Regions from separate parts of the Homo sapiens genome. Here region 1 is linked to region 2. A link means that fine-mapping ties the variant in region 2 to the expression of a gene that starts in the linked region. Tissue or cell type: whole blood. Region 2 holds a variant in brackets; the other region holds the start of a gene. All regions are shown on one strand. Distances are from middle to middle.

Region 1 (4,186 bases), 14 kb before region 2:
GGACCCTCAAGGTGTGAACAGGGAGGATGGTTGTCTGGGTGGCCCCTAGGAGCCCAGATCTTCACTCCACAGACCCCAACCCAAGCACCCCCTTCTGCAGGGCCCAGCTCATCCCCCTCCTCCTCCCTCTGCTCTCCTCTCGTCGCCTCTACGGGAAATCCGGGACTCAGCAGTAACCCTCAGGAAGCAGGGCCCAGGCGCCGTTTAATAGGAGGCTTCCTCACAATGAAACTTTTAGAAAGCCTTGACTACAATGATGACCTTGGTGTGGCTGTGAACACTGTCAGCTCCCACAGCTGCTGCAGCAAAAAATGTCCATAGACAGGGTGGGGGCCCGGGGTCGTCTGCTGTCCTGCTCAGCCCACAGCACGCATGGAGGATCTGAGGTGCCACACCTGACGCCCAGGCCAGAACATGCCTCCCTCCAGGGTGACCTGCCATGTCCTGCATTGCTGGAGGGACAGGGGCAGCCTATGAGGATCTGGGGCCAGGAGATGAATCCTATTAACCCAGAGGAAAACTAACAGGACCCAAGCACCCTCCCCGTTGAAGCTGACCTGCCCAGAGGGGCCTGGGCCCACCCCACACACCGGGGCGGAATGTGTACAGGCCCCGGTCTCTGTGGGTGTTCCGCTAACTGGGGCTCCCAGTGCTCACCCCACAACTAAAGCGAGCCCCAGCCTCCAGAGCCCCCGAAGGAGATGCCGCCCACAAGCCCAGCCCCCATCCAGGAGGCCCCAGAGCTCAGGGCGCCGGGGCAGATTCTGAACAGCCCCGAGTCACGGTGGGTACAACTGGAACGACCACCGTGAGAAAAACTGTGTCCAAAACTCTCTCCTGGCCCCTGCTGGAGGCCGCGCCAGAGAGGGGAGCAGCCGCCCCGAACCTAGGTCCTGCTCAGCTCACACGACCCCCAGCAGCCAGAGCACAGTGGAGTCCCCACTGAACCCCACTGAATGGTGAGGACGGGGACCAGGGCTCCAGGGGGTCATGGAAGGGGCTGGACCCCATCCTACTGCTATGGTCCCAGTGCTCCTGGCCAGAACTGACCCTACCACCGACAAGAGTCCCTCAGGGAAACGGGGGTCACTGGCACCTCCCAGCATCAACCCCAGGCAGCACAGGCATAAACCCCACATCCAGAGCCGACTCCAGGAGCAGAGACACCCCAGTACCCTGGGGGACACCGACCCTGATGACTCCCCACTGGAATCCACCCCAGAGTCCACCAGGACCAAAGACCCCGCCCCGGTCTCTGTCCCTCACTCAGGACCTGCTGCGGGGCGGGCCATGAGACCAGACTCGGGCTTAGGGAACACCACTGTGGCCCCAACCTCGACCAGGCCACAGGCCCTTCCTTCCTGCCCTGCGGCAGCACAGACTTTGGGGTCTGTGCAGAGAGGAATCACAGAGGCCCCAGGCTGAGGTGGTGGGGGTGGAAGACCCCCAGGAGGTGGCCCACTTCCCTTCCTCCCAGCTGGAACCCACCATGACCTTCTTAAGATAGGGGTGTCATCCGAGGCAGGTCCTCCATGGAGCTCCCTTCAGGCTCCTCCCTGGTCCTCACTAGGCCTCAGTCCCGGCTGTGGGAATGCAGCCACCACAGGCACACCAGGCAGCCCAGACCCAGCCAGCCTGCAGTGCCCAAGCCCACATTCTGGAGCAGAGCAGGCTGTGTCTGGGAGAGTCTGGGCTCCCCACCGCCCCCCGCACACCCCACCCACCCCTGTCCAGGCCCTATGCAGGAGGGTCAGAGCCCCCCATGGGGTATGGACTTAGGGTCTCACTCACGCGGCTCCCCTCCTGGGTGAAGGGGTCTCATGCCCAGATCCCCACAGCAGAGCTGGTCAAAGGTGGAGGCAGTGGCCCCAGGGCCACCCTGACCTGGACCCTCAGGCTCCTCTAGCCCTGGCTGCCCTGCTGTCCCTGGGAGGCCTGGACTCCACCAGACCACAGGTCCAGGGCACCGCCCATAGGTGCTGCCCACACTCAGTTCACAGGAAGAAGATAAGCTCCAGACCCCCAAGACTGGGACCTGCCTTCCTGCCACCGCTTGTAGCTCCAGACCTCCGTGCCTCCCCCGACCACTTACACACGGGCCAGGGAGCTGTTCCACAAAGATCAACCCCAAACCGGGACCGCCTGGCACTCGGGCCGCTGCCACTTCCCTCTCCATTTGCTCCCAGCACCTCTGTGCTCCCTCCCTCCTCCCTCCTTCAGGGGAACAGCCTGTGCAGCCCCTCCCTGCACCCCACACCCTGGGGAGGCCCAACCCTGCCTCCAGCCCTTTCTCCCCCGCTGCTCTTCCTGCCCATCCAGACAACCCTGGGGTCCCATCCCTGCAGCCTACACCCTGGTCTCCACCCAGACCCCTGTCTCTCCCTCCAGACACCCCTCCCAGGCCAACCCTGCACATGCAGGCCCTCCCCTTTTCTGCTGCCAGAGCCTCAGTTTCTACCCTCTGTGCCTACCCCCTGCCTCCTCCTGCCCACAACTCGAGCTCTTCCTCTCCTGGGGCCCCTGAGCCATGGCACTGACCGTGCACTCCCACCCCCACACTGCCCATGCCCTCACCTTCCTCCTGGACACTCTGACCCTGCTCCCCTCTTGGACCCAGCCCTGGTATTTCCAGGACAAAGGCTCACCCAAGTCTTCCCCATGCAGGCCCTTGCCCTCACTGCCCGGTTACACGGCAGCCTCCTGTGCACAGAAGCAGGGAGCTCAGCCCTTCCACAGGCAGAAGGCACTGAAAGAAATCGGCCTCCAGCACCCTGATGCACGTCCGCCTGTGTCTCTCACTGCCCGCACCTGCAGGGAGGCTCGGCACTCCCTGTAAAGACGAGGGATCCAGGCAGCAACATCATGGGAGAATGCAGGGCTCCCAGACAGCCCAGCCCTCTCGCAGGCCTCTCCTGGGAAGAGACCTGCAGCCACCACTGAACAGCCACGGAGCCCGCTGGATAGTAACTGAGTCAGTGACCGACCTGGAGGGCAGGGGAGCAGTGAACCGGAGCCCAGACCATAGGGACAGAGACCAGCCGCTGACATCCCGAGCCCCTCACTGGCGGCCCCAGAACACCGCGTGGAAACAGAACAGACCCACATTCCCACCTGGAACAGGGCAGACACTGCTGAGCCCCCAGCACCAGCCCTGAGAAACACCAGGCAACGGCATCAGAGGGGGCTCCTGAGAAAGAAAGGAGGGGAGGTCTCCTTCACCAGCAAGTACTTCCCTTGACCAAAAACAGGGTCCACGCAACTCCCCCAGGACAAAGGAGGAGCCCCCTGTACAGCACTGGGCTCAGAGTCCTCTCCAACACACCCTGAGTTTCAGACAAAAACCCCCTGGAAATCATAGTATCAGCAGGAGAACTAGCCAGAGACAGCAAGAGGGGACTCAGTGACTCCCGCGGGGACAGGAGGATTTTGTGGGGGCTCGTGTCACTGTGAGGATATTGTAGTAGTACCAGCTGCTATGCCCACAGTGACACAGCCCCATTCCCAAAGCCCTGCTGTAAACGCTTCCACTTCTGGAGCTGAGGGGCTGGGGGGAGCGTCTGGGAAGTAGGGCCTAGGGGTGGCCATCAATGCCCAAAACGCACCAGACTCCCCCCCAGACATCACCCCACTGGCCAGTGAGCAGAGTAAACAGAAAATGAGAAGCAGCTGGGAAGCTTGCACAGGCCCCAAGGAAAGAGCTTTGGCGGGTGTGCAAGAGGGGATGCGGGCAGAGCCTGAGCAGGGCCTTTTGCTGTTTCTGCTTTCCTGTGCAGATAGTTCCATAAACTGGTGTTCAAGATCGATGGCTGGGAGTGAGCCCAGGAGGACAGTGTGGGAAGGGCACAGGGAAGGAGAAGCAGCCGCTATCCTACACTGTCATCTTTCAAGAGTTTGCCCTGTGCCCACAATGCTGCATCATGGGATGCTTAACAGCTGATGTAGACACAGCTAAAGAGAGAATCAGTGAAATGGATTTGCAGCACAGATCTGAATAAATTCTCCAGAATGTGGAGCCACACAGAAGCAAGCACAAGGAAAGTGCCTGATGCAAGGGCAAAGTACAGTGTGTACCTTCAGGCTGGGCACAGACACTCTGAAAAGCCTTGGCAGGAACTCCCTGCAACAAAGCAGAGCCCTGCAGGCAATGCCAGCTCCAGAGCCCTCCCTGAGAGCCTCATGGGCAAAG
Region 2 (4,186 bases):
ATACTTTCAATGTGATTTCTTCTAAATAAAATTTACACCCTGCAAAATGAACTGTCTTCTTAAGGGATACATTTCCCAGTTAGAAAACCATAAAGAAAACCAAGAAAAGGATGATCACATAAACACAGTGGTGGTTACTTCTGCTGGGGAAGGAAGAGGGTATGAACTGAGATACACAGGGTGGGCAAGTCTCCTAACAAGAACAGAACGAATACATTACAGTACCTTGAAAACAGCAGTTAAACTTCTAAATTGCAAGAAGAGGAAAATGGACACAGTTGTGTTTAGAAAATTCTCAGTCCAGCACTGTTCATAATAGCAAAGACATTAACCCAGGTCGGATAAATAAGCGATGACACAGGCAATTGCACAATGATACAGACATATATTTAGTATATGAGACATCGATGATGTATCCCCAAATAAACGACTTTAAAGAGATAAAGGGCTGATGTGTGGTGGCATTCACCTCCCTGGGATCCCCGGACAGGTTGCAGGCTCACTGTGCAGCAGGGCAGGCGGGTACCTGCTGGCAGTTCCTGGGGCCTGATGTGGAGCAAGCGCAGGGCCATATATCCCGGAGGACGGCACAGTCAGTGAATTCCAGAGAGAAGCAACTCAGCCACACTCCCCAGGCAGAGCCCGAGAGGGACGCCCACGCACAGGGAGGCAGAGCCCAGCACCTCCGCAGCCAGCACCACCTGTGCACGGGCCACCACCTTGCAGGCACAGAGTGGGTGCTGAGAGGAGGGGCAGGGACACCAGGCAGGGTGAGCACCCAGAGAAAACTGCAGACGCCTCACACATCCACCTCAGCCTCCCCTGACCTGGACCTCACTGGCCTGGGCCTCACTTAACCTGGGCTTCACCTGACCTTGGCCTCACCTGACTTGGACCTCGCCTGTCCCAAGCTTTACCTGACCTGGGCCTCAACTCACCTGAACGTCTCCTGACCTGGGTTTAACCTGTCCTGGAACTCACCTGGCCTTGGCTTCCCCTGACCTGGACCTCATCTGGCCTGGGCTTCACCTGGCCTGGGCCTCACCTGACCTGGACCTCATCTGGCCTGGACCTCACCTGGCCTGGACTTCACCTGGCCTGGGCTTCACCTGACCTGGACCTCACCTGGCCTCGGGCCTCACCTGCACCTGCTCCAGGTCTTGCTGGAGCCTGAGTAGCACTGAGGGTGCAGAAGCTCATCCAGGGTTGGGGAATGACTCTAGAAGTCTCCCACATCTGACCTTTCTGGGTGGAGGCAGCTGGTGGCCCTGGGAATATAAAAATCTCCAGAATGATGACTCTGTGATTTGTGGGCAACTTATGAACCCGAAAGGACATGGCCATGGGGTGGGTAGGGACATAGGGACAGATGCCAGCCTGAGGTGGAGCCTCAGGACACAGGTGGGCACGGACACTATCCACATAAGCGAGGGATAGACCCGAGTGTCCCCACAGCAGACCTGAGAGCGCTGGGCCCACAGCCTCCCCTCAGAGCCCTGCTGCCTCCTCCGGTCAGCCCTGGACATCCCAGGTTTCCCCAGGCCTGCCGGTAGGTTTAGAATGAGGTCTGTGTCACTGTGGTATTACGATATTTTGACTGGTTATTATAACCACAGTGTCACAGAGTCCATCAAAAACCCATGCCTGGAAGCTTCCCGCCACAGCCCTCCCCATGGGGCCCTGCTGCCTCCTCAGGTCAGCCCCGGACATCC[C/T]GGGTTTCCCCAGGCTGGGCGGTAGGTTTGGGGTGAGGTCTGTGTCACTGTGGTATTACTATGGTTCGGGGAGTTATTATAACCACAGTGTCACAGAGTCCATCAAAAACCCATCCCTGGGAGCCTCCCGCCACAGCCCTCCCTGCAGGGGACCGGTACGTGCCATGTTAGGATTTTGATCGAGGAGACAGCACCATGGGTATGGTGGCTACCACAGCAGTGCAGCCTGTGACCCAAACCCGCAGGGCAGCAGGCACGATGGACAGGCCCGTGACTGACCACGCTGGGCTCCAGCCTGCCAGCCCTGGAGATCATGAAACAGATGGCCAAGGTCACCCTACAGGTCATCCAGATCTGGCTCCGAGGGGTCTGCATCGCTGCTGCCCTCCCAACGCCAGTCCAAATGGGACAGGGACGGCCTCACAGCACCATCTGCTGCCATCAGGCCAGCGATCCCAGAAGCCCCTCCCTCAAGGCTGGGCCACATGTGTGGACACTGAGAGCCCTCATGTCTGAGTAGGGGCACCAGGAGGGAGGGGCTGGCCCTGTGCACTGTCCCTGCCCCTGTGGTCCCTGGCCTGCCTGGCCCTGACACCTGAGCCTCTCCTGGGTCATTTCCAAGACAGAAGACATTCCTGGGGACAGCCGGAGCTGGGCGTCGCTCATCCTGCCCGGCCGTCCTGAGTCCTGCTCATTTCCAGACCTCACCGGGGAAGCCAACAGAGGACTCGCCTCCCACATTCAGAGACAAAGAACCTTCCAGAAATCCCTGCCTCTCTCCCCAGTGGACACCCTCTTCCAGGACAGTCCTCAGTGGCATCACAGCGGCCTGAGATCCCCAGGACGCAGCACCGCTGTCAATAGGGGCCCCAAATGCCTGGACCAGGGCCTGCGTGGGAAAGGTCTCTGGCCACACTCGGGCTTTTTGTGAAGGGCCCTCCTGCTGTGTGACTACAGTAACTACCATAGTGATGAACCCAGTGGCAAAAACTGGCTGGAAACCCAGGGGCTGTGTGCACGCCTCAGCTTGGAGCTCTCCAGGAGCACAAGAGCCGGGCCCAAGGATTTGTGCCCAGACCCTCAGCCTCTAGGGACACCTGGGCCATCTCAGCCTGGGCTGGTGCCCTGCACACCATCTTCCTCCAAATAGGGGCTTCAGAGGGCTCTGAGGTGACCTCACTCATGACCACAGGTGACCTGGCCCTTCCCTGCCAGCTATACCAGACCCTGTCTTGACAGATGCCCCGATTCCAACAGCCAATTCCTGGGACCCTGAATAGCTGTAGACACCAGCCTCATTCCAGTACCTCCTGCCAATTGCCTGGATTCCCATCCTGGCTGGAATCAAGAAGGCAGCATCCGCCAGGCTCCCAACAGGCAGGACTCCCGCACACCCTCCTCTGAGAGGCCGCTGTGTTCCGCAGGGCCAGGCCCTGGACAGTTCCCCTCACCTGCCACTAGAGAAACACCTGCCATTGTCGTCCCCACCTGGAAAAGACCACTCGTGGAGCCCCCAGCCCCAGGTACAGCTGTAGAGAGAGTCCTCGAGGCCCCTAAGAAGGAGCCATGCCCAGTTCTGCCGGGACCCTCGGCCAGGCCGACAGGAGTGGACGCTGGAGCTGGGCCCACACTGGGCCACATAGGAGCTCACCAGTGAGGGCAGGAGAGCACATGCCGGGGAGCACCCAGCCTCCTGCTGACCAGAGGCCTGCCCCAGAGCCCAGGAGGCTGCAGAGGCCTCTCCAGGGAGACACTGTGCATGTCTGGTACCTAAGCAGCCCCCCACGTCCCCAGTCCTGGGGGCCCCTGGCTCAGCTGTCTGGACCCTCCCTGTTCCCTGGGAAGCTCCTCCTGACAGCCCCGCCTCCAGTTCCAGGTGTGGTTATTGTCAGGCGATGTCAGACTGTGGTGGATATAGTGGCTACGATTACCACAGTGGTGCCGCCCATAGCAGCAACCAGGCCAAGTAGACAGGCCCCTGCTGCGCAGCCCCAGGCATCCACTTCACCTGCTTCTCCTGGGGCTCTCAAGGCTGCTGTCTGTCCTCTGGCCCTCTGTGGGGAGGGTTCCCTCAGTGGGAGGTCTGTGCTCCAGGGCAGGGATGATTGAGATAGAAATCAAAGGCTGGCAGGGAAAGGCAGCTTCCCGCCCTGAGAGGTGCAGGCAGCACCACGGAGCCACGGAGTCACAGAGCCACGGAGCCCCCATTGTGGGCATTTGAGAGTGCTGTGCCCCCGGCAGGCCCAGCCCTGATGGGGAAGCCTGTCCCATCCCACAGCCCGGGTCCCACGGGCAGCGGGCACAGAAGCTGCCAGGTTGTCCTCTATGATCCTCATCCCTCCAGCAGCATCCCCTCCACAGTGGGGAAACTGAGGCTTGGAGCACCACCCGGCCCCCTGGAAATGAGGCTGTGAGCCCAGACAGTGGGCCCAGAGCACTGTGAGTACCCCGGCAGTACCTGGCTGCAGGGATCA

Evidence for each region.
Region 1: FAM30A starts here. The variant in region 2 is fine-mapped to the expression of FAM30A in whole blood (TOPMed, PIP above 0.99). The same link has a PIP of 0.9 or more in blood mononuclear cells and lung.

Annotation. Positions count from the first base shown.
Region 1 is chr14:105,916,120-105,920,305 of GRCh38, reverse strand. FAM30A (family with sequence similarity 30 member A) reads right to left here and starts at 2,327. Exons shown (of 6, transcript NR_026800.2): 1 at 1,489-2,327. It also overlaps IGH, IGHD2-2 and IGHD1-1.
Region 2 is chr14:105,902,106-105,906,291 of GRCh38, reverse strand. It overlaps IGH, IGHD5-12, IGHD4-11, IGHD3-10 and IGHD3-9. Among named protein-coding and RNA genes, the nearest start is that of FAM30A, 14 kb to the left of the region's middle. The variant C/T (reference allele first, on the strand shown) is at 1,713.